Linked DNA regions of Homo sapiens: region 1 is linked to region 2. A link means that fine-mapping ties the variant in region 2 to the expression of a gene that starts in the linked region. Tissue or cell type: whole blood. Region 2 holds a variant in brackets; the other region holds the start of a gene. All regions are shown on one strand. Distances are between the middles of the regions.

Region 1 (2,685 bases), 26 kb after region 2:
GCCACATCTAAGACATTTAGCTGGAAGCTAAAATTTAGCTTAGAGAACAGTATCAGTTGTTCTTATACTACCACCCTGTTCCCAAATCCCCGACCCATTTCAGAACCACTAGTAAAATCATCAGCTATAGTGTCATGGACTTTTTGGAATCCTTAAGCCTCAAATCCAATGGCTCAAGATGGAGGGGCTGGAAGGGAATGTGGGGCAGAGGCCAGGTGAGGGGTAAAGCAGGAAAGGCTTGTGAGAGGTAGGGTGGGATAACATAGATTTCTTTTTCTTCCTTTGGGTTTTCCAACCCTCCCTCCACACCGAGGAACCTCATTCCACAAAAGCATAAGAGAGAGGCATGAGGTATTGATGACTTTATTATTCTGCAGGTACATGTCCAGGGGCCCAGCCTCTGGGCCCAGTAACTCAGCTACTCTTTGTGGCTTTCTTCATGGCTTTTTTTGTGGGCTGCCACGCCCATCTTTATCACCAGAATGAGGAACTCCTGGAAGTTAACTGCACCATCAGTGTTGATATCCAACTCTTTGAACCAGACGTCTGCACCCTTTTTCTGTCAAGATTGAGGAGGAAGAAGCCAGAGTTTAAAGATCTCAGAGAGAGCCGAGGCATAGCCATCTATGAAGGGTGGCAGGGAGGACCGCTGGCCCAGGGCAGCCCCAGGACCAGGCAGAGAGCCCCCGCCACACCCAGCCCCTCCTCACCCTGATATACTGAGGACACTCGGTCTCTAGCAATTTCTTCAGGTCATCCCTGTAGACGGCATGGAAATTCCCCTTTATCAGGGAGTACTTGTGGTAGACGTCGATGATAGAGTTCAAGGCTTTCTCCAGCTCGGTCAACATGATGCCCACGGACTTGCCCCACCTGAAAAACAGAACCTTCTGGGGAATCCCATGGCAGGGAATTTGCATCTGGCCAGGGCAGTACGCAGAGGATTCATGCCCCAAGCGATGGCCTTGTCCTGGCCTGCACTCTCCAAATAACCAAACCAGCAGATGGCTATGGCTCTGGTGGGAAGGGTGGGATGATAGGGATACACGTGTGGGAAGGGGAAGGGTCCATTCACACAGAGACATGTGCACACACACGGGGCCCGTAGACTTTCCTTACCACCCCACCCTCTGCTCAAGAAAAGTCCAGCCTAGGAGACAATGTGCCCTTACCCACTGGAAGGTGCTGGAGGATACTCTCCTTCCTTATCCCTGCCTCACTCCCCACCTCCAGGAGTATCTTTGCTCCAGACCTCCCTGAGCTTTCTCTCTCCTCTCTCAGGAAGGCTGCTCCACTTCCCTGACCCTCCCCAAGAGAAGCCCAAAGTGCGGGGCCAACCCAGACAGTCCCACTTACCAGGTCTTCTGAAAGACAGCTGACAAGAGACATGCAGGGCTGAGAGGCAGCTCCTTTTTATAGCGGTTAGGCTTGGCCAGCTGCCCACAGCTTCAGGCCATCAGAGACAGCTTCTCCCTGCCAGAGTTGCTACAGTCTCTGGTTTCTCAACCAGGTGAATGTGGCAATCACTGTGCAGAATGAAAATTTTGGGTGGGGAGGTAGGAGAAGCGGAAAGAGGAAGGCATTTGCTGGGCAATAGTGCCCAGAAGGAAAAAGCAGGTAGGGGGGCTCTTTTTCTGGGCTGCTGGCATCCACTTGCTTGATCCAGCCAGATTCCCACTCCCATGCCCTCTCCACTATTGCGATTGCTAATCCCCTGCATTGGTGGTCAGGCCATACATCCCTGAAACTGAATTGAAGTTGAATGCATCATTTTGAGTGCATGCACTCAGTGAGAACATTCCTCCATGGCTTCTGTCAGAGTTTCAAAGGGTCCAAAGACCGCAAAAGGGTTGAGAACACGTGTCCTGGCTGATGGCTTTTAGTCATGAGAACTATTGTTCTCATTACTAAAAACTAAAACTATCGTTGTTGTTCTTTTGGGTGGGTGCTTTGTGGGGAAATGTGTTGTTGCCAAGGGCTATATCCATTCCTACCCTGCTGCCCACACTCCTCCACAGCTTTCCTGTTCTGTGAAGCTGGGGATGGACCATGCCCTGGGAGATGGAGGCTGCTTGGGGTCCCTCGGCACTTCACAAGGGCCTGAGCCATTGCATAAACACAGCAGGGAGCCTTTCACCCTCTCTTGGTTAATTATTGTGTCTGGGACCCCAGGATCACTGGCTGAAGAGAGGAAGCTAACTCTGAGGTAGTGGAGGGGAAGAGTTCTTTGGAGAAGCCAGACGCGCTTCATGCCTAAGAGGAGAAGAGGAGGTGGCCAATTCCCCAGGATTTCAGGAGGAACAAATCCTCTCCCCACCACTAACAAAATGCTACTCAGATTAACTGGCTTCCAACCTTGAAGACTGTGGTGTGTTTCTGTTGTTACAAAGAAAATATTTGTAAAACAAATATCTGATAAGGGATTAATATCCAGAATATAAAAGAATCCCTACAACTCAACAACAAAAAACAAACAAACCAATCAAAAATTGGGGAAAAGACTCAAATAGACACTTCTCCGAAGAAGATATACAAATGGTCAATAAGCATATGAAAATTACTAATCTTTAGGAAAACATGAAGCAAAACGACAATGAGATACCACCTGACACCTACAAGGATGACTACTACTTCTTTTAAAACCCAGAAAACAAGTGTTGGTGAGGGCATAGAGAATTGGAAGCC
Region 2 (2,685 bases):
GGATGACCCAGAGACCTCCTCAGGTAACAAGGATTCTTCCATTTACCTTGTCTCTAGTAACTCAGTCTGCATGTAGGCAATTGTTTCAGACCCTGGGGGAAGGTCTGACAACAAGCCACTTGCACCCTGCGGAATTTTCTTTAAACGTAGTTGAACAGAACTCATCAAGGTGACTTAACCTCTTCATTCCCATTAGCCTCTTTCATTTCAAAAAAAAAAAAAAAAAAAAAAACCTCATTCTGCTGAGTAGAGCAGAGTGGGCTTCTTTTCTCAGATAGAGAGAGCAAGCATGTCCATGTCCATGTCAAGGTTAAGATTCCCACTCCAAGTGGAAATCAGTAGCTATCTCTGTGATTAATGAGTCCTTTGGGGAAACATGACCTTTGGGGACTTTCCCAGCACCATGGTGACTAAAGAATCAGAGACAACCTGTCTTCAGATGACTATCCAACAATTCCTGCAACAATGAGTTGCCCTCCAGGCTGGTGTTAGCAGTGGAACCTGAACTGCTAGATGCCTTCCTGGGAGGAATGAGGAAGGATCAGAAGTAGTCTAAGCTGCTAAACTCTTCCCAGACACTTCACAGTGCTCTGAATGTGGTCTGGGGCCTGGGTGGTGGTGGGATGGCTCCAGAACTTGGGGGAGAAATGAATTCACTTGTCCACTCACTTGTATGTCCCTTCATTCACTCAACAGACATTAACTGCAGACTTACTATGTGTCAGGCACAGTATAATGCTGAGGGGCCTTCATGATAAATAAAGCTTGTCCATGTTGTCAAAGAGTTCTCGGGCCTGCAGGGAGACAAGACAGCTCCTCAAATTAATCTGATGTGGAAAATGAGAGGCCAGGGAGGTCCAGCTAAAAGATTTCGGTGGGATGTAGCTCGGTGGGACTTTGAGGTGGGAATGATGCCCTTCACTGGGGCCATCTCCATGGAGGGGTAAGTATCAGTGTGACATCAAGGCTGGTACCTGGAGACATCCCGGGATAAACATGAAGGTGCTTCAGGAGACCATGTATGCAAAGGCCTGGAAATGGGCAGGCGTGGGGTTTGAGGGCGAATGAGGAGCACTGGGGGCGTGGCAGGGAGAGGTAAGAGAGACAGATGAGAACAGGATAGGTACCAGGCCAAGGAACTCACACTCCATTCAGCAGAACAGGGGCAGAGCCCCGAAGGCTTCAGGGAGGGCAATGATATAATCACATTTGCATTTCATAGAAGTTTCTCTATCTGTGTTTTATGGGATGGGTTTGGGGTGGGAATGAGACCCCAGGCACATGGCCTGTGGGGAGTCTGTTGCAAGAGCCCAGGTGAGCACTTAAGAGTCCAAGCGGTGCTTCTCAGAAAAAGTAAAGCTAGAGCCTCAAACTACCCCAAGCTTCACCTCAATTAGGAGAGGTGTGACTGCAACATGATAAATAAGATCATTTCATGCTGTTTGCCAAGACCTTTCCAGGAAGGAAGATCTCAGCTTTCACCAGCCCGGTGAGCCAACCTTACACAACCCTGATGCAGCCCTGCCCTGAAGTAAGCTCCATAATCCAACCCCAATGCACTGCCCCCTCTTCC[G/A]GCAGTTGCTTAAAACATATATTTTAGAAAGCCCCGTGTCATGGATTTTGACACTCCAATTACCAAAGTGACAGCAGGACTGAAACAACTGGTTTCTCAAGTCCTATTGCCCCTTGGGGCTCTGACCTGAAACAGTTTCTCTATCCTAAGACGACAATCAGTCCCTGGATGATTAGATCACCCCTGTCTTCAGAGATCCACTCCCAGACACAGGAGACAGGGAAAGGGAGCCCCTGAGCGACAGCCAGCTGGCCTCCATCCTGAGTGTCCCACGGAATGCAGAGTCCCAACTAAACACAGAGCACCGCTATTGGTGCTGGCTCAAAACAACTACATCTAGGCTTTCCTTTTCTGCATGAGTTCTCCCACTCTTGCCCACGTACCCAAAATTGCTGCATGCAGACTGTACAGTGAGGAAGGGGTTTGTTGCCAAGACCCGAGGTGAAGAGGAAGAGGAGGGTGGCCACCAGCAGGGGCGGCAGGGGCAGCAGGATTCCAGCATGCAGCCCGCACCTTCAGCATCCCCCGCCTTGACTTGGAGTCTGATCCTCCCTCCTCTCCCCTGCCTCTCCCCCAACCTTTTCCCTCTTGATTTGCCCCCTCTCTTTCTCTCTTTACCTTTTCTACATCCTCTCCCTGAGCTTTTTCTCACTTACTGCCTTCTGCCCTCCTGTCCTCTGTGGTAAAATGCAGTTCTATGTGGCTGAGTGCTTTCAGGGAAGCAACTAGGGGTCATATCTAACCTTTGTGAAGTAACTACGGGTCATATCTAACCAGAAATGGCTCCCTCAAAACACAAGATGTCCCAGTTTCGAGTCTACTCCTCATAATGAAAGGAGACAATCACAAGGGAAAATTGTTGAAGGTCTTGGGGAATCAAGTCTGGAAAAGGTAAGCAAGGGAGCCATGACAGCTGCCTTCAAATATCACCAGGGTCCAGGGAGAGGAGCCCACCCCCGGGGGCAAGGCCTCCAAACCCGCTGTGGTGTGGCTCATTTGCTGCCAGGCCCTCCCACTCTCCCAGCACTGCCTCAAGCATCGCCCTCGCATTCTACTCCAGGTGTTCATTCCCTCTGGTAGGAAACAGCTCCATGCAAAGAAGCCAACATTCA

What was found. PIP is the estimated chance that this variant, and not a neighbour inherited with it, causes the effect.
Region 1: S100A8 starts here. The variant in region 2 is fine-mapped to the expression of S100A8 in whole blood (TOPMed, PIP above 0.99). The same link has a PIP of 0.9 or more in blood mononuclear cells and monocytes.

What each region holds. Positions count from the first base shown.
Region 1 is chr1:153,389,685-153,392,369 of GRCh38, forward strand. It overlaps S100A8 (S100 calcium binding protein A8), which reads right to left and starts at 1,389. Exons shown (of 3, transcript NM_002964.5): 1 at 1,357-1,389; 2 at 711-873; 3 at 348-559. The coding sequence starts at 851. The coding sequence ends at 419. RefSeq lists a silencer at 396-596.
Region 2 is chr1:153,363,894-153,366,578 of GRCh38, forward strand. No RefSeq gene overlaps it. Among named protein-coding and RNA genes, the nearest start is that of S100A9, 7.4 kb to the left of the region's middle. The variant G/A (reference allele first, on the strand shown) is at 1,574.